Linked DNA regions of Homo sapiens: all the other regions are linked to region 4. The links come from fine-mapping of genetic effects on gene expression. A gene starts in region 4. Each other region holds a variant in brackets. All regions are shown on one strand. Distances are between the middles of the regions. Region 1 has its middle 41 kb from the start of POLR1D. Region 2 overlaps LNX2 (ligand of numb-protein X 2). Region 3 has its middle 58 kb from the start of POLR1D. Region 4 holds the start of POLR1D (RNA polymerase I and III subunit D). Region 5 has its middle 47 kb from the start of POLR1D. Region 6 overlaps LNX2 (ligand of numb-protein X 2). Region 7 overlaps LNX2 (ligand of numb-protein X 2).

Region 1 (4,069 bases), 41 kb before region 4:
CAAAAAGATGACCCTATACAAATGAGAACGTTCATATTTCTCTTAGCCTTGAGGTGTCTGCCATATGATGGGCTACTTTAGGAGTATGCTGATTCTCAAAATCATGTTATTCAGGGTGGCTGGTATTAAACAAAAACGAATGTAGAATAGCCACATTTCTATAAAACTTTGATTTACAGAGAACCCCAAACAATACTTCAAAATCAAGCCAACAACACTCCACATAGGAATTGTGTGGACTAGTACTGTACAGGTGAAGTATAAGCAGTCAGGCATTAGCATAGCCTCACTCACAGAGGTCAGACCATCTCAGAAAACCAAAATGGCACTGAATCTGGAAGTAAAAGGAAGAAAAACAAGAAAATACCTCCTGCTGCAAATAGGTAGCTCTTGAGCCTACAAGGACAGAGAAAATATCTGAGAAAAATGGTCAGGCCAGAAAAGTGACAAAGGAATGAACTAGAACAAGGAGAAACTTAGAAAAGGACAGTGGAAAATTAGAAAATTTAAGAAAAGGACAGTGGAGTGCAACAGAAATAGTGGGAACATTCAGAGGTGGTGACAGCTCTGGAGTTTAGAAGCCACAGTGAATGAGACGAAGGGCAAAGAAGAAAGGCAAAAACAAAGAAAAAACAGTTCTGCAAGTACGAACTATAGAGCTTCACAGAGCTTCCAGAAAAGGTACACCAGCATTACGCTGCCTTAGTAGTCTCAAGGTAAAGACATTTCTACCTCCTGGGGGCACGCTGGCATTAGGACATTCCTGTGCGGGAAGACAGGCACGTGATGAGAGGCAAGCCGAGTTCTCCTGCAGGGTCTGACAGGGTACTACTGAATGCAGGCGTTGCTTTGGTGAAGACACTTGACCCACTGCAGTTGCAAACTCAGCAATGATTCAGAACAGTATTAAACACTGGCATGTTCCAAAACAGCATAACACAGACAGCCTACAGGAAAAACTACCCTCCATCACAGAGAGTAAAAAGCTTAGAGGGCCTGTCTTTGGCAATGGTGGCCTGGTGCTTACTACAAGAGCAAAATCTTTTTTATAGACAAATGAACTACATATGTCTCTTGGATATATAGGGCTAGGAGTAGCTGGTGAAACATGTCCAGCAACAGAAGAATTCTGGGGTCTTTTCACTGAAGTGGGCCATCTCAGTGGTGGTAAACTGGCCAGTTCTTCTCTGCATTAAACAACAAGGAAGGGTACTTTTCCCAGACGTGATGGTAATCCAGGATCTCAGAACAAAACCTTTGGTAACTACTGGTGAATTCCACTCTATTTTGCTGTTTTCAATGTCAGATCATCTTTAAAACCAAATGCTTCCTCGAGGTGAGCAAAGCCCTGCTACTAACTGCAGCATTCACGCCAAGAGGCAGAGGGGACTGCACCTATCTTCCAACTGCTAGTGTAACCCACTGACTCAACATAGTGACCCAAAGAGTTAGCCAGAGAATGAGATGGTTTTATAGAATAATTCCACAAGAAAACTGGCATTTACATCTCTTTTAACATCAGAGATGCAGTTTTTTAATGTTGGTTATGCCTGGGATTCTATTCTAGGTAAATAGCCAAGGGTGGCCTGAGGAGATCTTGGTTTACTGGGGTGGGGTGGAGGTGGGGTTTGAAAGTCAGACATCTCCCAGGCATGCCAGTACACATTTTAGAAGTGATGACAAGTGCTCATTCACACTCTACTAATAAATAGGGCAGGGCAATGAGATACAGTAGTTGCAAGCAGATGTGAAGGTACATATAGTAAATCATTTTATATAAAGAAATTCCAAAATCTGCACAGAATAGATCCAAGTCTAAGGACGGCAACATCAAAACCAATGTCTGAGGGAATCAGTGGGGAGAGCTTCTCTGGCCTTTAAGGTAGAAATTAATTTTGCTGAATCTCACAGTTGGTTGTTTCATTGCTAAGAAATCACACTACATGAGACAGTGGCTGGGCACACATGCTCTGGAATCACACTAACAGACTGGACTTTGGGCATGTTATGTAATCTCCCTGCTGCCTCTTAGCTGTTAAGTGGGGATAATAATGGCGACTATCTTAAAGGGTTGCATGCAGATCAAATGAATTAGAACATGTAAAGTACTCAGAACAATGCCTGAC[A/G]CATAAAGGCATTTGGTTAATTTCAGTTTTGGTTCACAGCCTACTATTTAATTAGCTGTGTGATCACAAGCAAGTTACTTAACTCCTCTTTGCATTCGTTTCCCCCACTTGCAAAATGGGAATAACAGACGTATCTACCTTATAAAGTTATTGTGAGGATTTAATGAGATAATGTATAAGGCATTTAGCATGGTATCTGGCATACAGCAAACTGCAACAAATGTTACCTACAGGTCCACAATTTCTTATCCCTAATTCCAAAATTTAAAAACCTATTAAAACCAAGTTATTTTTATGACACCAAAGTTTGTTTGGCAGCAAAACTTGATCTGACCTGACTTTGGGCTATTTATATAGTCTTTATCCCATTTAATATAAACATTCATGTTTTGCTGAAGAAATGATACCATGTTGAACAAGTACAGAGTAGTGGTGGGGGGGGTGTCTAGTACATGCTATCTGTGCTGTAATACCTTTCTAAAATGTAAAAATATCTAAAATTAGAGACTTATTTGGATACAAAGGTTTTAGAAAAAGGATGGTGGACATATATTATTTTACTCTCTCTTCATGAGAAAGAGTACACATAGCTCTCAAATAGGCTAATACATCCGGAATTTTTGCAAGATGGCAACTCAAGATATCCCAAAGCCTCAAATCACCTGTGATAATAAGTTAATCAAGAACAGAGTAGAATCTCTATGAAAGAAAAGATTAAGAAAAAAGTAAGCCATCATTAAAAGTTAATGAGACATTTTACATAAGTTTCCAAAAAAAGGGTTAAAATTTAAAAGTTTTGGTACTTTTAACATGGTTAGATTTGTATTTGTAGAAGTTTCAGATTCCCGGCTATCTCAATTCTCCATTGCCACCGGGATCAAGAGGCTACTACATACTACCTTTGAGCTTATCATTTGTATTTCCAACTGTTCCACAAACCCTCTAGGCCTCTGTCCTCAGACGTAAAACTAACGGTTGAAGTAGGTGGGTGATCTCTAGAGTCCCTTCCAGTTTTAGGATCCTCTGCTCATGCTCTGTACATTAACTCTTTAGAAAAGTTCACTCTTCTCATTCATCACATTAGGAAATTATTTCTTACTGCCATTTCCCGCCTCCCCCGATCTTCCACAGTATTTGAGATGACATGATAAACTGGCATTAGACACTCCACCATTCCTGGCTTTTCTCGTATCAGCTTTAGGGTAACCATCTGAGCCCTGAAATTGAGCATAAGATCATAGGCCACGGCTGCCTGCTGTGTCTGCACTGTCTGTCACTGTCTATGCCCAAAAGGTGTGCTGGGGGAAGGACTGGAGGAGGCCACAGGACAGGGCAGCTGATTTCCTGTCTTAGCTCTGACCTGGGGGGCGACTTTCTCACCCTGGCTAGTTATTTTTATATTTAGTTTATTTTTGTTTCTAGAAAGTTATGCTAGCTCACATGGTAAGAGCCAGATTTAAGGTGCTAACAACATAAATGGATATAAACCCTAAATATCATGAGACTGGTTAAATCTGCTTTGGAAAGTACCCATGACACAATGTCAGATTTGAGATCTGGCATTCTATCCAGGTTAAACTTTAAAAGGAAAGCAATTTCCTTCACTTTGAAACCTGTGGGCTCAGAGGCTGTGATGGAAGGGTTCCACATGCCATGGGAAAGGCTGACTGCTCAAGAATCTGCCACTGGAGAGATGAAGACTCACTGGGGCTAGAATTATAAGCTTTTCATCTTTTTTGTCTCTCTTGCTGAAGGATAGAGGTAGTAGTATCTAACTTTCCACAGATTTAGACCTGCTACCTTTTGCTTCTAAAATATTTCCTGAATAGGACCTATCTGAGAGTGACACAGGATCGCCAGCCAACAGGGTACGTTGAAGACACAATTACCTTGTGCTATTCCATTACCAATGTTGCCTCATTTCATCTCCACAGCCGTCATCC
Region 2 (4,069 bases), 48 kb after region 4:
TTCTTTTTTCCTCCATTTCTTCCATTTGTGTTAAATATTTTTAATATGCTATTTTAATTCCCGTGTCATTTCTCTTAATTAAAATTATTTTCTTAGTGGTTACCCTGGGGCTTACAATTAACATCCTAGTTTATAGCAGTCTATTTTAAATGAATACCAGCTTCATTTTCACTAATGAATTAGTCAGGGATCTGTAAGGAAATAGAACCAATATATGAGGAGTTGGCTGACATGATTAAGGAGTCTGAAAAATTACACGTTCTGCTCTCTGCACGCTGGCAACCCAGGGAAGTCAGTAGCATAATTCAGACCTTCTCAGTCAGAAGGTCTGAGAACTAGGAGAGCCAGTGATCCCAGTCTGAGGGCAGGAGATGAGATGTCACAACTCAAGCAGTAAGGCAGGAAAATAAGGAATGAATTTCTTCTTCCTCCACCTTCTGTTTTCTTCAGGCACTCAAAGGATTGAATGATGCAACCACATTGGGGAGGGCAATCTACTTTATACTTTATGGAGTCCACTGATTCACATGCTAGAAACAGCCTCACAGACACACTCAGAAACAATGTTTAATCTGGATACCCCATGGCCCACTCAGTTGACACATAAAATTAACCATCACAAGTAGTATACAAAAACTTTCATTCTCTCTCCCCTCCTGTGTGCTATTATTATTATACAAGTTGTATCTTCACACATTATGTGCCCATCAACACAGAATTATTGCTTTATATGTTTTTCTTTTAAATCAGATAGGAGTAAAAGAATTACAAACCAAATAATTCAGTACTGTACTGATGCTCTTCATTTTTCACATGAACTTGAGTTACTGTTTAGTGTCCTTTCACATCAGCCTGATGGACTTCTTTTAGTGTTTCTTGCAGGTTAAGCATGCTACCAACAAACATTTTGTTTTTACCTAGGAATGTCTCAATTTCTCTTTTATTTTTGAAGTCGGCTGGATATAGACTTCCTGGTTGAGAGTTTTCTCCCCTTCTCTGTCTCTCCTTCCCTCAGAACTTTGAGTATGTCATCCCACTGCCTTCTAGTCTCCATGGTTTCTGAAGAGAAATCAGCAGATACTATTGAGGATCCTTTCCTTGTGATGAGCTGTTCCTCTCTTACTGTTTTCAAGATTCCTTATCTTTGGCTTTCACCAGTTTTATTATGAGGTGTCTTAAGTGTGTATATCTTGTGGTTTTCCTACTTGGAGTTTATTAAGCTTCTTGGATGTGTAGATAAATGTTTTTCATCAAATTTGGGAAGATTTTTGGCCATTATTTCTTCAAATATTCTTTCTACTCCTTTCACTCTCTCTCCTTTTGGAACTCTCATTATGTATATGTTTATTCTCTTAATGGTGTCCCACAAGACCATGAGGCTGTGTTCTTTTTTTTTTTTTCTTCCCTGTTCCTCAGACTGGATGATCTCAATAAACCTATCTGCAAGTTTGCCAGTTCTTTCTTCTGATTCAATTCTGCTGTTGAACTAGTGAATTCTTTTTCTGTTTTGTTTTTTTGGAGACAGAGTTTTGCTCTTGTTCCCCAGGCTGGAGTGCAATGGCGCAATTTCAGCTCACTGCCACTTCTGCCTCCCAAGTAGCTGAGATTACAGGCATGCGCCACCAAACCTGGCTAATTTTGTATTTTTAGTAGAGACGGGGTTTCACCATATTGTTCAGGCTGGTCTTGAACTCCTGACCCCAAGTGATCCACCCGCCTTGGCGTCCCAAAGTGCTGGGATTAAAGCACCCGGCCATGCATTCTTTTTCATTAAACTTTTTAACCCCAGAATTTCTGTTTGGTTCTTTATTATGACTTAATGTTTCTTTATTGATATTTTCTTTTTGATAAGACATCATTCTCATATTTTTCTTTAGTTCTTTAGATAGGTTTCCTTTACTTCTTTGAACATATCTAAAATAGCTGATGTAAGTTATTGTCTGATAAAGCTAATGCCTGGGCTTCCTTAGGGACAGTTTCTGTTGGCTGCTTTTTTTTTTTTTTT[TC/C]CTGTGAATGGGCTGTACTTGTTTCTTTGCATGTTTCTTAATTTTGTATTGAACAGTGGACATTTTAAATAATATAATGTGGCAACTCAGAAAACTAGATTCTTCTCCTTCCTGAGGACTTGTTATTGTTGTTGTTTGTTTGTTTGCTATGTGACTCTTATGAACTAATTCTGTAAAGTCTCTGCTCATTTTGTGTACTGGACAGCTAATGATTGGACAGAGAATTCTTTAAATGCCTGAGATTAAAAAAATCTCCCCGTCTTCCATGGGGGTTCTGTGTGCATGGTGGGGCATGCCACACCCTCAACACTCACGCCACTGACAGCTCCACCTTAGCCTACACACACAGCCCTGAACATAGCTGAACCTCTGTGGACGTGTCATTCCCTGGCTCTTCCTTGTAAACATTCTGGTTAGCCTTGTATTTGTCTTCAGGCAGCCACAATCTTCAGCAATGACCTCTGATTTTTTTTTTTTTTTTAACCAATGCTTAACAAATGCCCCCAGTGAAAAGGAAGTTTGCCCTGGGTGAGCTCTGAGTCAAGCCAAGTAAAGACAGGCACACAGTCATACAGGAAACAAGTATAGGGGGAAAAAAAAGAAGAAAAAAGACAAGCACACAAGAGGGGAACCATAGACAGGTCAGTTAATAACAGATCTCTGGGAATAGGGCTTTGAAGGTTCTCCAGTCTGCTCTTCCAGTGTCTGCCAGCCTCCTGATTTCCACTGTGATGTGGGCTGTTGCTTTTCCAATATTCTGGGGAGGTGAGGATGGAAATAGGGTAAACTCAAATGCCACAGAGCTCTCTCTTCTTACTGAGAGTCAGCCATTTTTCTTGAACAAATGTTCTCCCTACTGCTATAATTCTTTGGCTAATTTCCACACTTCAGAAATGGCTGGTTCTGACAATTTCTTCCAGTGTTCTTACTGCTTTTATGGAGGAGAGACTTTTCAGATATTCTTAATTCACCATTTTCACTGACATGACTTGAATTAATTTTTGTTTATTCCCTAGCTATTTTTATCATTTTTCTTGATTCTAAGGTGTTCACATTCTTTCAGTGTCATTAAATACCTGGCATTGTGCAGTGGTTAGTATGCATTGTTTTATTTTGTTTCTACTGCACTACCACCACCCCCACTATTAATACTAATATTACTGACAATAATATAGTGTGTTGTTGCACCATGTGTTTCCTAGTGTGAACTAGCTCATATGCAGTTGTTATCAGGGAATGATGTCACTGTAGCATAAATCAAATTAGTCCATATATAATTTTTCCCTTAGGAGGAGAGCCAGAATAGTGGGAATAGAAGAACAACCTTCAGCAGGAAAGGAAAAATCCCTATTTGGGTCTTGGCTGCTGCAAGAGCATTTTGGTTTTATTTAAGAAAATTAAAAAACACACCTACATGTACAGATCCCTCCCTCAGGAGGTGCAGCCCTCAGCCCATGGCAGATTGCACTGCCTCAGCAGCCCACCATCTCAGAGCTCCACTGTATGGTCTCAGCATGTGCCTACCTCAATCTAATTAGATGTCACATGCTGTTCTGTTCTATTGTTTTTGTTTAATTTTGATATCCTCTGTACTAGTCTCCTGCTACACTGAGTCACCTGCCTGAATAAACCAAGTCACCTCCCCCAGTGCAATTTCAGTTTGTGTTCTTAAATGTTCCATTTCCAAAGATGGATAGGTTTTTATTTTTGTGATTTCTGTTTTTTAATGATCGCTAATACCCTTCTAGCCCCAACGTTCTGTGATTGTGTTTCTAGGTACAAATTTTTAGAAGAAATTCAATTTATATTTTCCCAAGGCCTAGAAAAAGAATACCATAGGAATGAATTTAGTATGATACACTGGAAAGAACAGAAGCTAGAAGCCTTTGAAATTAGATCTGAGTTTGTTTGGATTATGGCTCTGCAATTTAATATCTGTGTGATGTTGGCTTAGTTGGTTAAGTCTCAAGTTTCCCATTTTTAAATGGGGATAACAGAGTAATTGTGAGGATTTAATGAAATAATGTATATAAAGGTTGTTACGTAAGTAATTGGCACAAATT
Region 3 (4,069 bases), 58 kb before region 4:
AGAATATCTGCCATAAAAGGTGTTTTCCCTCATCATTCTCCTCTCTCTATGGATATATAAATCCATTCATTATATGTATATATTCATTATCTGTAATTATACCTTTCCAAGGGCTGTAGTTGTTCATCCTCAGTGTAAGAGAAACCTCTGGGAGGTGGACAAGGTGAATAGAAGGAAAACAAGACTTAAAGCGACAACAAACTTAAATTGTAGGCAAGAGAAGGACTTAGGTATCATACAGTTTATATTAGCTGACTGGTTTTCCAGCTCATACAGGTAGTCCTGAGGTTATTTTTCCTGTATCTTCATGCAGTTTTTCAAGACTTCAAGGTAGTCTTTACTCAGTCATAGATGCCAATGGGTAATCCCTTTACCTTTCTCACACTGAGACTGCATTTGTTTTCCTGCAGGAAAAACCCTTGAACCACAGAGAGAATAGAAAGACTATAATTAAAATTTGAACATAGCTCATTGACTGGGTAACACAACAGTTTGCATCCTCTTCCACTTAAAGAAAATCAAAATGCTTGCTGGGCTTCTTTGAATCTTGGAGGCAATATATGTCTAGAGTGACTTATTTGCCTGGAACAGTTCAAGTCTATGCCTGTTGTCTTGACGTATTTTAAGTAATTCTTTTGTTTTAATGTGCTTGGACTGGGACAACAAATTCCATAGTGCCCTACTCTGCCATATTTGAGTGTGATTCTCTATCCATTTACCAAGAAATATGTAAAGCTAGCAGGTCTGAGTGGCATCAAGAGCAAGAGAATGCTTCCTAGCTGGGTCATGCACAATGTGACTATCATCCTCAGGCTTTATGATCTAGCAAATCTAGTGATACTCAATATGTCTGAAGTAGAAGATACTCTATTGAGCCCTGGGCAAACTCATGGAAGAATTGTAGTTCCAGTTACAGTGTTTGAAAGAAGCTATACACTCCTGAGCAAATAGCTAATCTCCTCTTGAGAAACAGTTCCTAGATGTCTATTGGGTCTGAGTGGGGACTAAACACTTGATTATAGGGCATTAACTGAACATATGACTCAAACTGCTCATTATGAACTGCCCATTATGATGTCATCCAAACATCATACATTTGGGCATATGAAGCAGCACTTTACCTTCAAACCAAGTGTTCATATGGGATCAGGCAAAAGCAGGTCCTGAAGGCAGGATCCTGAAGATCAGGCACCACCTGACAGGTAGGATTCAGAAGAAGTGGCTCAGACTTCCTGATGTCCTGCTCATCTCCTTCATCCCTCTGGTCTCATTTACAGCTTTCTTCTGCTGGTTGTAGGGATGGCTATAGCATTACAGCCCCACTCATGGGTGGCCCTGAAGGACACTGGGGAAAGGAATCTTCCCAGTGGGCAGAACATCTAGCAGGACATTGGTTGTCTAGCTTAAATGGAAGAAGAAGTCAGAGGTGCATATCTATACTGACTCATAGTCGCTGGACAATGATTTGGCCAGATGGTCAGAGACATGCTAGAAACAAGATCAGAGAATTAGAGACAAGGAAGTTTGCGCAAGAGATATATGGCCAAACCTCTTAGAATGCACAG[C/T]GTGAGATAAATTGATATCTTACATGAATGTTTGCCAGAGGGAGCCCATGGTAGAAGAGGATCTCACTAACGAAATGGACAACATGACTCACTGTGTAGACCTCAGTGAACTACATCTGAGGAGTTTGTGTACAATGTGGTCATGGTGGCAGGGCTGGAGATTAGGCATCCGTGGATATTGCCACTGTGCTGATCTGACTACCACTACCACTGCAGAGTATCCAACTTGCTAACTACCATTTAGCACCATGCTCTGAAGGGACCAGCCAATCTCCTAGTGGCTCATTGATTGCACTTGACTCCTTACATCATGGAGAGGGCAGTAATTTATCCTCTTTGAAGCAGACATTCTGAATATAGATTTGCCTTTCCTGTCCACCATGCATCTAGCATCTCCATCCATGGATATTTTTTGTGTCTTATTCACCATCATGTTATTCCTTACAATGTTGCATCTGCCAGAAATTTATTTGACAGCAAAAAGGTGACTCAATATGCTCAAAGGATTCACTGTTCTTAGAATAAACACCATCAGCTAGAAGTCACTCATCCTATAGAATGGTAGAATGGCCTTTTGATGACTCATTCATAATATCAACTTGGAGATTTACAAGTGAAGTTAGGGTTTTGTTCTATACAACAGCCAATATATGGTGCAGTTTCTCTTCTTATGGTGCATAAGCAGAAAAAATGGGTCCAAGAATCAAGGGGTGAAAGTAGGAGTGGTACCTACCACTGTGACGCATAAGGACTCACTTGTAAAATGTTGCTTCCTATTCTGGGTTTAGGTCCTGCTTCTTTAGAGGCCTGACAAAGAAGGCAGGCTTCTAGAGGGGACTCAACAATGGGTCCAGTGAGACAACCACACGGCCATTGTGGCTTTTGATGCTAGTGAATCAACTGGCATAAAGTGGAGGTGCTGTGTTTGCTGAGGTGATTGCTCCTAATTAACAAGTAGAAATAGGGTTATTGCTGCACTTTATGGGCAGAGAGGGGCTCTATCCCCAAATACCTGGAACTTGAGTTCTTTCCTAATACAGCTATGACTAGAGGTAAAAGTTCATGAAAGACCAGCTATTTGATAATGACATTTCAGTTTCACTCAGCAGGGGCCATTGCTTTTTCCATGCTTCCCAAGTCATTTTAGCACCAGGCAATAGCCATAGAATCCCCTTATCCTTGTATCTACTATTTCTTCCAGAATTCTCAAGCACCTGACTCATCACCTCTGCAGTGCATCCCTTTCCAGAAGTCCACTCTCCTGATTCACCACCAGTGGAAGTTTTAACAATGGAAACACCATCTGTGCAAGGTGTCCACATTGCTAGCTGGGCGGTGAATGATTCAGCTCCAAAATCCCATTTGATTGCCTGCTCTTTCCAGACACAACTGCAGCAAACTGGATTGTCTAGACACAGATGATGAGACAGAGTTTAGGGTGCAAGAAGCTAACTAGGGATCAACACCTGTGTAAGGAAGCAGGTGGAAGCACAATTGAAGTTGAGAAAGATGAAGAGGTTGAACTGCCCTGCAGGCCAGATAGAGCCTTGCCAAACCAGTGGGGAACTCGGAGGAAGTCCTGCCTGCCAGTTTCCCATGTGGAGCCGAAACAGTCGTGCTTTTATCTCTCCACCTTGCTCAGTCACCAGATGCAGGCCACGCCCAGAAGGGTATGTTTTTCTCTGCAGCTCAGACTGATGTTGAGGAGCTGGGAGCTGGAAGCCACCTGCTGACTGCACTCCCTGCAGCTGGTCAGCCCATCCTTCTCGAGGGGCATCTGAATGGCATCTTCATCAGGTCTACAATTTTATGTACATGCCACATTCTGGGCTTTCCCACTTTGAAGCAATTATCAGTTATGAATGTTAGGAACACTTTGTACAAGTTTTACCGTGACCAAATGCTTTCATTTCTCTTGGGTAAATATCTAGGAATGGAATTGCTGGGTCATGAGGTAGGTGTATGTTTAGTTTTATAAGAAACTACTAAGGCTGGGCCAGATGGCTCACGCCTATAATCCCAGCACTTTGGGAGGCCGAGGTGGGCGGATCACTTGAGGTAAGGAGTTCAAGACCAGCCTGGCCAACATTGTGAAATCCCGTCTCTACTAAAAATACAAAAATTAGCTGGGTGTGGTGGCACATGCCTGTAATCCCAGCTACTTGGGAGGCTGAGGCAGGAGAATCGCTTGAACCCAGGAGATGGAGGTTGCAGTGAGCCGAGATCGCACCATTGAACTCCAGCCTAGGTGACAGAGTGAGATTCTGTCTCAAAAAACAAACAAACAGACAAAAAAAAAAAAACTACTAAAGTGATTATGCCATTTTACTCTCCCACCAGCAATATATGTTAATTCTGGTTGCTCTAGCTCCTCAATGAGATTTGGAGTTGTCAGTCTCCTTAATTTTAGCTCTTCTGTTGGGTGTGTACTATCCCATTTTGGTTTTAATTTGCAACTTCTTGATTACTGACGATGTTGAGCACTTTGTCAAATACAGTCATGT
Region 4 (4,069 bases):
CCCAATCTTCTTTCCTTCTGTTTTTAAACAACAATCTAACTGGGGTCATGGTTTTTGTCTCTTCCCTTACCCCCACCACTCCAACTACAGACATGGATATATACTTCTTTTAATTCCCATGATCACAGTTCTTGTCTAGGCCTCTGATATTCTCAGTTTCCTCATTTTCAATGCTGGCTTAATTAGAAAAAAAGTCATCCTCAAGGACCATTTGGTTGCATGGAACAGAAACCAGTCAAACTAGTTTAAATAAAAGAGGGAATTTATTAGAAGAATACAGAGGTTCTTGCAGAGATTCCAACAGCTGCAAGGGGTCAACAGCTAGAATCACGCCTTTCTGAAGGACAGAGTATGCTGTAACCACAAACTTCTAATTCTGGGTTCTGCACCATCAGGAAGAGAATATCCTACAGGACAGTTCTCCTTGTATACTGCATAAAGGACTAGAATGTGGATTCATTTCTGCTTGCTTTTTGATCCTTATAGTCCTTTATGCTGGCCTCAAACTTGTCAAGCACATGTTGGCAGACATTCATGAGCTCATTCAGGCCTCTCTGAAATGGCTCAACAGCTGGAAGGGTACCTCGAGTCTGAATGCGTAAATTAATTTTGCTCTCTGAAGGATGGGTCGTAGTGTAACCACAAAATTCCACTTCCGGGTTCTTCATGATCATGTAACGTAGAGAATTTCCTAGGGTATGGTCTTCCTCGTGCAATACAAATGTCACACAGTGTCTATCTGTTCCAGCTGCCTGGACCATTTCCAGGGCTGTCTTCCTCTCGCCTTCAGCCATTGAGGTCTTCAATCCAGATATTTTTCTACACACATATTTTTTATAAAAATGAGATCATACTGAATATTGTTTTGTAACTAGCTTTTTCTCATTTACTATATCACATTGCAACACATTATTATTAATCTACTCCAGCTACACAGAATTATTCGCCTCTCATTTTCCTGCCTCCACAAACTCTATCAATAAATATTTAATTTATTGCCTCCAGTTTTTCCCTGCTCCATTTGACCATCCACACTGGCCACAAGGGGAGTTTTCTTAGAAAAACACAAACTTAAGTGTTTGCAAAAATATTTTTTGGTAGAGTCACAAGCAAGGGATAGGATTAGAATAGGACTGGTCCTGCTAGAGGATGAAGAGAGGGTTGAAAGGCATAGAAATCCCGATTGCTCTAGTATAAAAATAGAGGATACAGATGATCAATGTGCAGGCCCAACTACGGCTTCCATTTTGCAAGAGAAGGAAACTAGGAGAATGGAAGGTTCAGGAGTCAAGCAGCAGGGAGAAAAAGAGCTCAGCGCACAGAGTGGCTTTAGGAGCAGTCTGCACATAGAAAGAAGGTGAGCCGTAGTTACAGGGACAGAGGCACGAGTACCGTCCTCAGGAGCAGAGGCCCGGGGCGTGATTTTTACACACTGCTGTTGTAACGGGGGTGGGCAGTTCGGATACTTAACTCTGGTCTCCCAACTTGTCTTCCCTCCTTGATAGCTAGTGTACCTCTCAGCCTCTCAACTGAAACACATTCATGTCTCCTCCCCACTTCTCTCTCCATGCTTCTTCTCTGCGCCCCGAGTCAGGCCCCGGCTGCCAGGCCAGGCAGCGTGCCCCTCGGCCACCCGCTCCCCTTGGGCGCGGCCCGCTCCGCCCGCCTCCTCCTCGGCCGTTACCTCTCCAGCTCCTGATCCTCTTCCATCGCTGGGGCGGTTTCTGGATCCTCAGGTGGTGCTGGCGGATCGGGGGCTCTGTCCCATAGCGCGAGGCGCGGAGGCGAAGCAGGAAGCAAGGACCGACCGACGGAAGGCGCGGAGGACGGAAGGAGGGAGGAGGAGCCGCAGCGGCGCGGCAGGGCCCAGCCGCGGGGCGGGGCATGAGGCTCCACCCCCAGCCCCCGCCCCGACGCGGGGTGAGCGGTGGCTCGCGGCCCCGCGGCTCACCTGGGCGACCACGCGAGGCCACTCGCGGCGGGAGGGGCAGGGGGCGGGGCCAGCGCCGCCTTACCCCGAGGCCCAGACAGGCCTGCGGGCGCCCCGGCTCAACTCTGGTACCTTTCCCCAGGTGATGGCGAAGGGGCGCGGCCTTACCTGCCGCCCCCAAATCACTTCCCTTCCCAGTGGCAAGTCCGAAAGCGGCCCGACTTCCCAACTGGGGCGGTGTTGACCCAGGATGGCCCTTCCTGGGACCCCGGCCCTCCCGGGCCTTTTGTGGGACGACAGGCTTAAACTGTAGTCGGTCAACACACCTTGAAGAGGGAGGGGGGTCACGTGCGAGATGAGTCACCACAGAATACGAAGGTTGAAGGCGGTATTTGTTTCACCGGGGAGCTTGCAGTTGCATTTTCAACTGGGTCAAAATAGGGCAAGAAAGAAATGTCTCTTTTGGGGGAGTGAGAGTTTGGGAGAAAACTGTTTCCCACCTTATCCTTTCCGTCCTAGGATTCCTTCTACCCCCAGAGCGCGTCCTCTCCGGCTGTAGACTTCCTTTTCCCTTTCTCCCCAGTGGCTCCTCAAACCTCCTCACCTGCGGAACCCGCCCTCACCTTTGTTCCCAGGCGCCCAGCCCCCGCCTCGGCAACCTTTCGCCGCCCAGGCTCGCTCTCCATCCAGCTCCCTGCGTCCCGGCCTTCGCTGTGCTCCCTCAGGTGCGCTTCCTCTCGAATCGGCCCTTCTTGTCCCCTCGCCGCTGGCCCCGACCCTGCCCGACTCCAGCTGTCCAGCGCAACTACGTTTCTGCTTCCCTGCGCCACCTGTTCTCCTGGCCTCCCCCCACCCCGCCCCGCGATTCCTCTGGATGTTCACTCCTTCCCCAGCTGTGCCACTCTTGGCGGCGGCCGGGGGTGCGCGCAGACACCTAGCCAGCGGGGCTTCCGCAGGGGAATCAGGCGGGCGGCGGGGACAGCCCGGGGCGAGTGGGGGAGGCGGGCGGCGAGGGCGGAGTGGTCTCACTCTAACCCGGGAGTGACGGGTCCCTTCTGGCCCGCCTCCCGAGCTCTCGGATAGGTGGAGCCGCCCTCTGGTCCGCCCACCTCCCGCCCTGTGCTACCTCCGATTGGCCCGGGTGCGGGTTGGGCCGCTCGGCCTTGGCGCTGCCCCCGGGAAGGCAGCAGGGGCGGTTGAGAAGTGAAGTCTTGGCCGGAGTTTGCTTTTTGCCAGGAAATCCGCGGCGGCGGCGGCGGCGGCGGCGATTCCTGGCGGAGCGGAGCCGGGCAGGCTCTCCGCTCCCTCAGCGGGCCGCGGAGAGCGGGAGCTGGTGCCGAGCAGCGGCGCCAGGAGCCCGTGCGCGGCCCGGGCAGCCGCGCTTTCCCAGTGAGTAACTTTGCCCTGCCCGCCTCGCTGCGCGCCCTCTCGCTGGCTGCGGGCAGCCGCCTCAGGTGCGGGCGTCAGCTGGGTGTGGGTCAGCGCCGCGCCCCGGGAGGCGGCCGGAGCGGCGCCACAGCTCGCCCCGGAGCCTTGGTCCTTCGCGGCTGTCTTCGCTCGCCCGGGCTGCGGGGCTGGCGTGGACTCGGGTGTGGGTCTGGTCCAGGAGGGAGAGTCGGCGCCCGGTGCCCGCCGCCTGCAGGCGCCCGGGAGGCGGGCGGCCTCCGGCTGTTAGCGTTTGCTGGTTCCGGCCACCGTGGTGCAGAGCTTGGCGTCGTTTGCTTCTTAAGGGAAGGGAGAGGTGGGGTGAGTGTTTAAATTTCCTCTGTGTGTGTGTGGTGTCGGCAATGAGAGTGGCACTAGCTGCCTTTATCGGGTTTTGTTCTCTGGAAAGGGATGGGGAGAGATCATTCCCTCCGCCCCAGCCTGTTGCCTGTGAATTCTCACCTTTCTCTTTAGGCTGGAGAGGGTGGGAGAGAGATTTGACATCTTCCAGGGGGTAATTTAAAAATATGAATCTTGATTTGGAAGCAGTTGCACACAAAGCATCATTCAGGAAATACATCACTCGCTTTTCAAAGCTGTATGCCACGTTTTAAACAAGGACTTTTGACTCATGTAGTGTTTCTTTTAGTATTTCAGTTTACGTTAAGTTTATGAATCCAGACGTTCGTTTGTACCAGGAGCTAAAGTACACTT
Region 5 (4,069 bases), 47 kb before region 4:
GGAGAAATGTCTCCCTCAGGTGTTTCATATGATGTGTTATATCTGGTATTTGTTTCACATAGAGAGTATTTATAAGTTATCGAAACCAAAGGTGAATATTACAGGACTATATGGATGGGAGAAATAGTTCATCTTTCATCTTACTATTAATGATGCTCCAAAATCCATGTTTATTATTGGCCTTTTCATGGTAATGTTCATTGAGATTTATAACATGGGTTACCAAATAAAAATGTATAAGTTGCCTTTGAATTCTGCCTTCAGTGTTGCCTTGCCAGTTTAATGGGGATTAATTTACTTTCCTCTTTATGTGTTCCTGTGTGTAAAAGGGCATGCTTCCTGGGCATCTTTTCCATGTTGAGAACAAGAGTTTCCACTTGGCAAACTAACCTTCTCAGTATCTAGACTCAGAAGAGCCATGGGTGAGGCTCAATTTATGATCTGCTGACATGGCTTTCCAAGAGATAGTTTCTCAAATTCCTTGGATTATAGAATGTTTTCTATGGTATCAAAGAGGCCGCGTCCCAAGGATTTCTTTACTCCCAAATCTCACTATTCTTATGGATGGAGAAAAAAAAATTCAAACATGGAAGATCTAGAATACTGGCTTCACCTGAGGTTTTAGTTTTCCATAGCTATATTCCATTAGCTGCCATTTAACCATTTCACAAGAGTTGTGAGAGTTTTTCTCTTGGATTCAGATCGCTGTCTACACTGGCCCTTGGGAAACAGTTCCCCATACAAATGTTCTTTGCTGGGGCTTCCATGTTCTGATCTATGGGAGTAGATTTTGGCTTGCAAAATGCAGTGATTATAAAAGTTCTTTAGGTTCTTAAATTGGGAAGACATGGAGCATATACACCTTGAGACGACCCTCCCGTCCTGTGTTTTGAGGGAGCCGAGTTTGGATTAAGTTTGGCATAGGGTACAGGAAAGAGTATGGGTTTTTGATTCAGAGAGTCTTGGCTTCAGCTAGCATTTCTGCCACTTCCTAGTTCTGTGATTTTGGGCAAAGTTTTTAATCTATCCTCAGTTTCCCTTATTTGTAAAATGAAGGTGAGTAGCATCTTCTTCATAGGGTTGTGGGATAACTACCTGAACACAGGTAAAAGATATAACAGTGTTTGGCCACAGGTGATAGACAATCACTGTTACTGTCCACACAGTTCCAATACAGCCTACAAACACCTCATAGGGAGAATATTTATGGGTTTCCTAGATTCAGCTCCTCTGGGGAGGGGAGTCCTCTATACTGGATCCCAGGACACAGAACACTCCTTAGGAAAGTGATGAGGCTTCATTTCATCAGGAACCCACCTCATATAATGTCTATTAAATAGGCACTGCTTATCCACCAGATACTCTTTATGATTCTAAGGTGATGGCATGACCTCTACGAATGACGAATATGTAACTAATTGTAAAAATATGGGCTGGGTGTTGTGGCTCACGCCTGTAATCCCAGCACTTTGGGAGGCCGAGGTGGGCAGATCACCTGAGGTCAGGAGTTCAAGACCAGCCTGGCCAATATGGTGAAACCCCGTCTCTACTAAAAATACAAAATTAGCCAGGTGGCACATGCCTTGTAGTCCCAGCTACCCGGGAGGCTGAGGTAGGAGAGTTGCTTGATCCTGGGAGGCAGAGGTTGCAGTGAGCTGAGATCGTGCCTTTGCACTCCAGCCTGGGCAACAGAGCGAGACTCCATCTCAAAAAATAAATAAATATGTAAGTGCCATGCTAAGTCACTTGAATAATCAGTGAAAGAATAAATGCTACCCCAAAGCATTTTTTATGCTTTGAAGCAGATGTGCCAATGTGCCCCC[T/C]GCCCCCCTGCCAACCTCTCAGCAAAAAAGAAGTCCACAGGGAAATTCAAAACTCCACAGCCATCTTCCAGAATCAGCTCTGAGGAAATGTCCTTTAGTGCTTAGCCTGCTGAGCCCTAAAGTAAAACCCACTGAGATTTATAACATGTGTTTCCAAATAAAAATTTATAAACTGCCTACTCAGAGGGACCTACCCTAAGTCCCTCCCCCTTCATAAATGGGCGATTCAGAAAGACTAGCCACCAATAGGTGACCAGATATGGCTAGGAACCATAGCTTTTTGCTTATATTTCTTACAGGCTGTTTTCTAACATGAGATAAAACAAAAAATTATGTCAAGTTGCATTTGTGTTTAAGTCTTAATGGTTTCTAGTGGAAGCATGGAACGCAGTTCCTAAAATTTAGGGCTATTTGCACTTCTTTCTTTACCTATTGAAAGTTAAAGACTCACTCCAAACATCTTAGTTTGCAGATGAAAAAATGCAGTCCAGAAAAGTGACCCAGATAAGGCCTGAAGCTAGCCAGAAGCAGAGGCAGGACTAAGATTCAGTTTCTCTAACCTCTATCCCAGGCTTTGTGATCTCTAAATATAGTTACAATGGAGATCAGATAGTAACACAGGCGGATGGGAGCTCTTGGCAGCGCCAGTATGTTAACCACAGAAACAGGAGGTGGCTGGTGAATGTATCTCATGACCAATCCCTCCCCTAACATCTACTGTATACATAGGGAATAAAAAATAGATAATTTTCTCTTGACATTTTTAGACTGGAAATTATGGCTGCTCTTGATAGAAGCCTAAAGATTCCAATAAACTTTTCTGAAATAGAACAGTGCTTTTAAAAGGGAAAATGGTTTTGTAGGCCACTGTCGTTTAACACAACTTAAGAAAGGTAAGTATAGTTAGGCTAAAAAGCTTCCCTTAATTTTGAGTACAAAAATGTGTTCATTTCAGTCATTCCCTTTTAAAGGATAATGAACTTGTCTGTGTGTTATAAATACAGAATGCAAGGCTGGGTGCAGTGGCCCACGCCTGTAATCCCAGCACTTTGGCAGGCCGAGGCGGGCAGATCACCGGAGCTCAGGAGTTCGAAACCAGCCTGGGCAACGTGGCGAAACCCTCTCTCTACTAAAAATACAAAAATGAGCTGCACATGTTGGCGCACACCTGCAATCCCAGCTACTCAGGAGGCTGAGGCAGGAGAATCGCTTGAACCCAGGAGGCGGAGGTTGCAGTGGGCCGAGATACGTGCCATCACACTACAGCCTGGGGGAAAAGAGCGAGACTCCTTCTCAAACAAAATAAATGAATAAATAATGAATAAATACAGAATGCATACACAAATGACACAATTCAGCTTTATTTTTACTTAATTATAACAATTTTTAAAAACTCCATGACTTTGTGCTATTTCTAATATTTAAATAAAAAACATTTCAAATTTTGCACAAATAATTTAGGCCAATACATAACTAGATTTGAATAAAGTCAGATGAAGCAATAATTCCTCCTCTGTGTTTGAAAGGAATGAGTGTGGTTACAAAGTCACAGGATGAGTCCCTGGGATCTGGGGTGGGAGAAGGGGTGGATCAAGAATGACTTGGGCTTGTCACTCCCTAGCAGGCTGAGGGCGTGACACAGCAGCTCGGTGGCGGAGAGGTCTATTCTAGTTTCTAACACTCCAATGCTAACTTTTTGGATGTATTTCCTTCTAGCATGTAGAAAGGGCTTTTCTTGGCTGCCAGGAAGTAGGGAGCAGGGATGTGGCATGGTGATGATCTGAGGACAGCCAGGCATATGCTCAGACACTTTGGAAAACTGGGGAGGGGGAACAGGGAGACAGAATCTTCATCTTCTTCCTTTTGTGAACTGGGGAGGAGGGTGCTTGGTGACATTTTCCTGAGTATAAAGAAGGAATACAGGTTTGAAAGGTTTGTAATTGTATATGAAAACAGGTATTGAAAACCAATACTGGGGGAAAAAAGGCATTGTAAACACTTCTATTTAAAATGAAGATTTCTGGAACAACTATACTATATAGTGGTATCACAAGTCTTTAGCTGGTAAGATCTAGCACTGAAACAACTCTTAATTTTTAACTTGTGAGGGTTCTTTTTAAAGCACCACTTAAGACCTATATATTAAAAAAATTAAATATAGAAAGATTGTTCTATCTAATAAATGAGTTTGAGAATGCACAGGAAACAACAAAACCCATTTTTAACCTCTGGTAACTGAAGTGGAG
Region 6 (4,069 bases), 22 kb after region 4:
ATACTGTTAATTACACCAAATCATAGCCTTATTTGAGGAGTTAGAATTTAGAGAAGTATCATTCTAGTTTATTAATGCAGTTGTCTTTCTTTGGGGCTGTCATCAGTTTTCTCAGCAATGTCTGCAGATAGGGTGTTATAAATCATGTGGTTTCTGTGGAATTGCATCACGTATTGCTTATATAATGTCTTTCTTATTTTTTCTTTAATGATGGGGAAGAGGGAGGGAACAGTAAAAATATCTTAATTTCAGGTACTGCTGAACGTGGACTTTGGAATTAGATGGACCAGAGTTTGAATCCCATTCCAATCACTGATAGCCTAGTTGTTTTTAATCCCTTGGATCCCCGTTTTCCTCATCTATAAAATGGTAATGGTGATGGTAACTACTTCATAGGGTTTGTTGGAAAGATTAAATGAAATACTGCTTGTAAAGCAATCAGTATAATGTCCAGCCTGTAGTAATAGTGAATAAATTGAGCTATGAAGGAATAAATCACTGGAAATGGACTTTATAAGACTCTTCCGGGTTGTTTGAGTATCAAGTGAAGCAGTCAAGTAATATGGTTAAAGGAAGATAGGCCATACATCAGGCTTATCAGTGTTAAGCCACTTTAGTCTTTGTGATTCTGGGGAAGTTGACTTGATGCCTTGTTACAGAAGTGACCCAGGTCTGGCCCATTAAAGCATCACATGTCCCTGGCTACTGTGATTGGTTCAGCATAGGTACATGACCAAGCCAGCCATTAGAAATAGGAAGATGTAATTCTGGGGCATTTGTTGGCAATATTGTGGAAGCAGAACAAGGGGTCTGACACTGTGCCCCTAAAACTGCTGGGAACTAGCTGCCACATGAAGCCTGAGAATGAACCCAATCTAGAGGAAGCAGAGTTGGGAGAAAGCCCCGAGTCAGTAACACCTATCTTATTTTTCACTTAAGCCACTTTCAGTCAGGTTTTCCATCATTTGCAGCTGAAAGAATTCTACACACAGTTGCTCACCCAGTATCTTATATATTAATGTTTCTTACAGATTTCTTTACCTACTGAGTAATTCTACGGTTATGTTTCTGTACCATATATATTTTGCATGTATAGTGGCTAATCTACTGGTTAGATTTTATGTTCTTTGAGGAAACGACTTACTCCTGATATGCATGCTTTTCGTCCCCATTGGAATATCTGTACCCATGTTGTCCAGTACAAGACACTAGCCTTTTGTTGGCATTGGGTTTGAAATGTGGCTAGTCCCAACTGAAATGTGATGTAAGTATAAAATGTACACTGTTTTTGACATGTAAAATTTCAAAAACATAATATGACAAAAGAATGTGAAATTTCTCGATCATTTTGTGTCATTGGCTAGTAAATGTCTTTGTGCTAGACTGAGCTCTGTGAGCTCTCCAGAGTAACCCTATCCTCTGGTGCAGTGCCTGGCATGCAGCAGATAACCAACACATATTTGTTGAATGAGTCATGAATTTTCTGGTACATAACTGATGTGCCTGTTAGTTATGTGCCATGCTGGCTAACTGATAGGGGAAAACAAGATAAAGTGGTTTTAAAAAATGTATTATTCTTTACTCTTAGGTTTTCTTCATCTAGGCTGTTTCCATGGAAACAGCAACCAAAAGATTTTCAGGATTGGCGTAATGCTCTTTGGGTGATATTTGCTGCCATTGTTAACCAAGACCCACAAGTTTAAATATTTAGATGTGTGTTTCTTGAGTTTGAGATCCAAAGTGTAAAAGTTTGATTTGAGAGAAAGTTGCTAAATATTTGCCTCTTTGGGGTGCCTTTGAAATTCTTCCCTTCCATTAACATAATCTGCAGGAAAGTAAGAGTTGCCAAAGTACAGGTGCTATTCTATTCCTACAAGATACCTTTGTTATTGTTTTACTTTATATTGTCTATTCCTAACTTACTTCCTAATTATAGCTTTGTAAATATGGATTACTAATTGACCTTTACCTGGTTAGAACATAAGTATATTGTCTGTAACGTAAATGAATTTCTTTTAC[G/T]GGAATCGTAAGTTCAGATTGCAATGAGGATGCTAGTAGATAAGGATAGAGGAAGTTATATCCCAAATTGTTCAAACACCTAGAGCCATTGGCAGGAAAAACCAAGTGGGATTCCAGATCTTGAGGCACTAATTTACAAAGTAGTGGTGAGTGGCCTTAGAAGACAATGTTGTTCCAATGAGTAAACAAAGGCTCCTTTTGGTATCTGTATGTTAAAGCCCTAGGAGAAAAGCTTCAAGCTTGGTTAAAACTTTTCTGTATAGACCCTTTTATATACAAAGGTTGCATTCAAAGCACTGTACAAATTTTGTGCCCCATGACAAATATAAATGAATGTTTTCCAAGAAGCTTTGTGAGAGATTGATAGGCAGCTCAAAATTTGAGATGCTATTCAGTTTTGTGTTCATTCAAATTGATTTTGATATCTGAACACAGAAGCATATAATTATTGAATTCTGTGGATACAAAAAGTAGTGTCAATTTTGAAGCCTCCATTTTATTACAGTAAAAATTAAAAGTGAAAATACAGAATTGTGGAAAATTTTTTGTGAGACTGAGAAATGAGGTCCATCCAGCATTTTGGCCCCCATATAGATGGCAATACATGTTTTCTTCTGGAAAATTAACAATAGAGGGTAACTTCCCCTTGGATCTGTCATTTACTTGTTTATGTAAACATATATGTGTATATGTACATGTTTGTGTATATATATACTGTATATGTGTAGGTATGTATATATTTTGGTTTGTGCAGCCTGCTTATATTTACTATACTGTAAGTACTAGGTACAGTATATACTTTAAAATTATAGCTCTGGAATCAGACTGCCTGATTTGAATCATGTTTCCATCCCTCACTAGCTTTAGGTCTTGGGCCTTACTCTCAGTTTCCTCATTTGAAAAATGGGGAGGAATGTGAGAATAGTATCCATCTCAGGGTTATCTTGAGGATTAAATCTGTTAATTCTCCATCCCAGTTGACACTATGCCTGATATAAAGTAAGTTCTAAATAAATGTTAGCTATTATCATTCCCTCTCCCAATCTATTCCTTTTACATGTCAAAATTGACCCCATGGGTTAATCCCTGTTCAATTTAGACTGTGTATGATTTTGTGACATCGGTCTCATCCCCTTTTGTTTAATAACAAAAATCCTAATATTCTGTCCTTGTCCTGTGTTCTTGTTTTTTCACTTCTAATTTTAGTGGCCTACATCTCAACCTTTTTCTAGCTGTACTGTTTTTCTTTAGGTAATTGGACTTTGATGTTTCAGCCAGATGTGGGCCATAGGTGTTGATCATGTCTTTTTTTTTTTTTTTTAAACAGTGCTGAGACCCTTACCCACTCCTAAGTGGTGTGGTAAGGATGTGCTAAGTGATGTGCTGCAGTGAGCTGGAAGAAGCTTTGTAGATTGTTTAGCACAGTGCCCCAGTTTTTCAAAGCAGAAGGCTAGGGCCTGAGGCTGCAACTCCTGCTGATAATGGACATTTGTTGTAAATTGAAAGACATTTTATTTCTCAACAGTACAGTTTATAGAGTAAAATAGTAAATGGATTATCAAATTTTGGCTTTTTGGAGATACCAGGAAATTCTTATATTTATGAGAAACTACTTTTGAATTGTAAGGAATATAGGGATATTTTGATGGGAAATATGAAGAAAGTTCCCTTATAATTCTCTTTTCTTTGATATGTCTATGCTGGTTATGGTATGCTAACACCTTTTCTTACCCGCTTTTCTTCTTTCTCTCTTTTAAAACTTTTGTATCCTAAAATGTTGCTCAAATCCATTCCTCCTTTGACTGTTCATAGTCATTCCCTTAATTCAAGCTCTCATTACCAGTCATCTTGGCCATTGCAGTAACTTTTTGTTTTACCCCCCTTCATTATTGCCATAACTCTGCTGCCAGAGTTACCTACCCAGACACATGGGTCTAGTCACATCATTTGACTCAGGAACCCTTGCTTTCTCTCTGTACCTAGTCCAGCCCTCAGACTCTCTTTTCTGTCCATCCACCCCCGTTACATGCATATACCCACATAGAGTGCA
Region 7 (4,069 bases), 70 kb after region 4:
TGATATAATCCTCATTGCCATTTTTTATTATATTACTTAGCAGAGCAACAGTTCTTTTCTTCCTGAAACAGGGAAGACATTCAAACCGCAAGTTTCATTTCTTCATGTGGGCCCAGGGATAGCTTCTTTGTACATATTCTGATGTTTGCCCTGAATAAACTATACAGGGCTGTCCTTATGTATAGAACTGTGTAAATATAAAGCAGAATACATTAAAGATTTATTTCTAAGGGCAAAGGATCAAGTGATTTTTGATTGGACAGAATTGTAGAAATCTCTGAAACTCTTAAGAAGAGAAATGAACCTGCCCAGGGCCTGTACACAGCTAAACTCAGACTGATGATTCGAACTTCCAATCATGTCAAGGTGCCTCAGGCCACACTTTTTTCTATGTATTATGACATTATTTTAAAATTATGGAATGTTTTCTGTGTATTGGGTTTCTTCTCAATATTATAAAAATTACAAAGAAATAATAAATGCCATTTATTATTATACCTTATCTCATCAGAGTTGGGGGAACTAACTTTTGTTGCTTAGTTTATAAACAACAAGATTTGCAGGTGAAAACTCAGTGGCTCAGCTCATTTTTCTTGTTTCTTCATCTGAACAGGTGATGTGTTGCTAAATATCAACGGCATTGATTTGACCAATTTAAGTCACAGTGAGGCAGTTGCAATGCTGAAAGCCAGTGCCGCGTCCCCTGCTGTTGCCCTTAAAGCACTTGAGGTCCAGATTGTTGAGGAGGCGACTCAGAACGCGGAGGAGCAGCCGAGTACTTTCAGCGAAAATGAGTATGATGCCAGTTGGTCCCCATCATGGGTCATGTGGCTTGGGCTTCCCAGGTACTGAGCGCTTTCTTGTTGCTTTATGGAAATCATAATCATGCTTGCAGCCCTTATCAGTGTGTAGCATGATAAATTTACTCGTTGGGATAAAAAAAAAAGCTTTAATTCAGTAAAATAGCAACATCAAATCAAATTACAAAAGAAAAGGATAATTTTTCTTAGGATATTACACTTTAAAAGGTACACAAAGAAAGCAGTTGTGTCCATTCCTGTCAAGGCTCCTCAGTGGGCTAGCCATGAGATTGGATAACCCAGCCTCTTGCTTAGAAAAGTTGTCGTTTACCAGCACTCATTCCGCTATGTGCTGAGACTTCATGCATTTTTCATCAGAAAACCCAGGCCAATCTTGGGGCTTCCCCCCATCCCAGAAGCCTTTCTTAACACCTTTTTAAATTTATTTTAACTCTCGCTAAAAAGGGTGGCATTTAAAACTCAATTTTTATTGGATACAAGAGTCTATTAAGCCAAACCATTAGTGTTCAAGAATGGCTGCTTCACTTTTATTTTTTATAAATGTGACCAGCCAAGATATGCTGTGGTTGGTCAGTGTCGGGGTCACAGAAGCACATGGAACCTCCAGTGGCATCCCAGGGTACATTCCTTTCCGCGGTTGTTGTTTGACATTTGAGATAGGAAGAATGTGTTCCTATCATCATTTGTTGTCTAATCCGTTTAGATTCTTACCGTACCTAAGAATCCTAAAACTAAGCTATGAAGCATTTTGACTTTTGACCAAGTATGAAAATTATTGATTCTTTAAAATAAAACAATAAGAATTTGCTATTTTCTGAGCCACCTGACTCGTGGGATACATTTATAACAACAACTAGCATTTATATAGTGCTTCAAGGCGCTTTGCGCATAGTGGGTGAGAAGTGGTCTACTCGTGCAGTGGCTGGGCAGCACGTTGCAGACCTCAGAGCTTGTCTGCACCTCTAATGATGGGGCAGGCAGAGAGCAGCAGCGTCCTGGAGAAACTTGGTCCCTAGTGCTTCCTTTAATTTTCCTTATCTGATATACCAGTCTAGTTTGGAGGTTGGCACATTGACCTCTTTTTTTCAGAGCATTTTCTGGTGTGCCAGGCATAATAGCAAAGATTTTAGATGAGAAATACA[C/T]AGTATAGTAAAATCTGTTTTTGAGCCCACCTGTGTTGAAAGAATACCTGTCGATAAAAGGCTACTATTCAATGTGTGTATGGAGGTCTCTGTTGAATGCAAAGCTATATTCAACAGCCATGTGTCCTCCTCAGTGGGTGCAGGTGGCCCCTATATGCAGGTTTCACACGGCATAGTGTAGCAGCTCTGCTCTGCTTTTCGTGAAAAGGGAGATTCTTCCACTGCGATTTGCTGGGGTATACAAGAAAGCTGTTTGTTTCAGAAGATGCAGCATTAGGAAAATAACCAACACTGTCCCTTTAAATCCAGGCCAGTGCATGGGACCTTGTTCCATCCCAGAAGCCTTTCTTATCAGTGAGCTAGGAAACTAGATAAGATGAGAAGTTCTGGCATGGTAAACATTGCTTTATAGAATTGGCTTTATTAAGAAATAATAAAACAGGATTTTTAAAATTAATTATTTATATTATGTATATTTATTATTTTATTATGGATTTAAAACAGGAAACCTTGCCTTCCGTGCATTTAGATCCAGTTTCACCTAAAGATGAAAGATATTTATTTATTATGAAGAGTTTTTTTTTCCTTATCATTTAGGTGTGCTTTTTTTGTTTGTTTTGTTTTTAAGATTTTACTCACTGCTTGTTCCCAAATCCATAGAGCTATGGAAACATAAGTACATTTTTTTTTTCTCCCTCTCTGGACACATCCTGCAATCTGGCAGTAGCATTCTAACTGTAGTTTCTCAGTGTCTATGATACATTTATATATGCATGTGTGTGTATAGATGTGTATATATTTTCTTTTTTTTTAAAGATGGGGTCTTGCTCTGTCACCCAAGTTGGCATGATCATAGCTCACTGCAGCCTCAAGCTCCTGGGCACAAGCCATCCTCCTGTCTCAGCCTCCCAGTAACTGGGACTACAGACACATGACGCTGTACCCAGCTTGTCTATGATAGAAAAAAAAAGAAAAAGATTTTTTGTTAGTGTTTTTCAGATTGATTTCTCTATTTTGGCAATTAGAGTCTCCCTTAAAATGAAAACATCCTAAGTAAAGGAGAAAATAACAAATAACTCCTCATGTAGACTAAAAGCCTATAGGACCTTTAGAAAAGAGAGATAATTATCTGCCTTCTTTTCGGAAGCTGCGTTCCTAATCTTTTTCTTCTTTCATTTGCATGCTGGGCTTGGCAGTACTAGACCTCTTTCATCCCACATTGTAATTCCTCTTGTAGATAAAAGTGATTAGTAGAATTGAGGACTTTGTTGACAATGCAGTGAGCTGATATAGGTACATGACCTTTTTGTACAGGTTACTGAGGTGTAATTTGTAACCAGGTTCTCTACTTGTGTGTGTGTGTGTATGTGTGTGTGTGTGTCTTCACTTGGGAAGACTGAAAAAAGTTGGAGAAATTTGAGTCTACCTAGGACTGTGTCTCTGCTAGAAGATGGATTGTCAAAATAATCTATTTATTAATAGCCCTTTTTCTTTTTTCCAAGAGTGGTAAATATAACATGGTATGGGGTTATAACAAAAATAAGCGGCTATAAAAGCCTCCATGTTAATTTTTTCTTTATTTTTCTGTTTGTTTATAGCACACTTCATAGCTGCCACGATATAGTTTTACGAAGAAGTTACTTGGGAAGTTGGGGCTTTAGTATCGTTGGTGGATATGAAGAGAACCACACCAATCAGCCTTTTTTCATTAAAACTATTGTCTTGGGAACTCCTGCTTATTATGATGGAAGATTAAAGTGAGTCTTGTTCTAATTAATGATGTGATTCATGTTGATGACATTGGACATGATCTAGACCAGGGGTCAGGGGTCAGCACTAAATCCAGCCCATTATCTTTTTGAAAATAAAGTTTCATTGCAGTGCAGCTACACTTACTGGTTTATGTACTCTCTGGCTCCCACACTACACCAGCGGAGTTGATGTCATCATGACAGAGACTGTATGGGTCTTGAAGCCTAAAATATTTACCATCTGACCCCTTACGGAAAAAATTTGCCAATCCCGATCTAGACTGAAATGTTACCTTTACTGTCTTGTCACTTATAGCTATGTTTCATTAATCTGATGACAGAAACTGAACCTGAG

The links.
Region 1: its variant is fine-mapped to the expression of POLR1D in whole blood (TOPMed, PIP 0.97).
Region 2: its variant is fine-mapped to the expression of POLR1D in monocytes after muramyl dipeptide (Kim-Hellmuth 2017, PIP 0.95). The same link has a PIP of 0.9 or more in monocytes.
Region 3: its variant is fine-mapped to the expression of POLR1D in whole blood (INTERVAL, PIP above 0.99).
Region 5: its variant is fine-mapped to the expression of POLR1D in whole blood (INTERVAL, PIP above 0.99).
Region 6: its variant is fine-mapped to the expression of POLR1D in whole blood (INTERVAL, PIP above 0.99).
Region 7: its variant is fine-mapped to the expression of POLR1D in whole blood (INTERVAL, PIP above 0.99).

The regions. Positions count from the first base shown.
Region 1 is chr13:27,660,862-27,664,930 of GRCh38, reverse strand. It overlaps a transcript of POLR1D not described here. Among named protein-coding and RNA genes, the nearest start is that of POLR1D, 41 kb to the right of the region's middle. The variant A/G (reference allele first, on the strand shown) is at 2,127.
Region 2 is chr13:27,571,862-27,575,930 of GRCh38, reverse strand. All of the region lies in intron 2 of LNX2 (ligand of numb-protein X 2), which reads left to right. Among named protein-coding and RNA genes, the nearest start is that of LNX2, 47 kb to the left of the region's middle. The variant TC/C (reference allele first, on the strand shown) is at 2,006.
Region 3 is chr13:27,677,647-27,681,715 of GRCh38, reverse strand. No RefSeq gene overlaps it. Among named protein-coding and RNA genes, the nearest start is that of POLR1D, 58 kb to the right of the region's middle. The variant C/T (reference allele first, on the strand shown) is at 1,566.
Region 4 is chr13:27,619,625-27,623,693 of GRCh38, reverse strand. It overlaps POLR1D (RNA polymerase I and III subunit D), which reads right to left and starts at 1,802. Exons shown (of 2, transcript NM_015972.4): 1 at 1,685-1,802; 2 at 245-819. The coding sequence starts at 1,710. The coding sequence ends at 444. It overlaps LNX2 (ligand of numb-protein X 2), which reads left to right and starts at 3,165. Exons shown (of 10, transcript NM_153371.4): 1 at 3,165-3,319. RefSeq lists silencers at 1,546-2,105, 2,726-3,615 and an enhancer at 2,409-3,137.
Region 5 is chr13:27,666,511-27,670,579 of GRCh38, reverse strand. It overlaps a transcript of POLR1D not described here. Among named protein-coding and RNA genes, the nearest start is that of POLR1D, 47 kb to the right of the region's middle. The variant T/C (reference allele first, on the strand shown) is at 1,824.
Region 6 is chr13:27,597,476-27,601,544 of GRCh38, reverse strand. The region is part of intron 1 of LNX2 (ligand of numb-protein X 2); the gene reads left to right. Among named protein-coding and RNA genes, the nearest start is that of LNX2, 21 kb to the left of the region's middle. The variant G/T (reference allele first, on the strand shown) is at 2,020.
Region 7 is chr13:27,549,984-27,554,052 of GRCh38, reverse strand. It overlaps LNX2 (ligand of numb-protein X 2), which reads left to right. Exons shown (of 10, transcript NM_153371.4): 8 at 614-845; 9 at 3,562-3,720. Among named protein-coding and RNA genes, the nearest start is that of LNX2, 69 kb to the left of the region's middle. The variant C/T (reference allele first, on the strand shown) is at 1,964.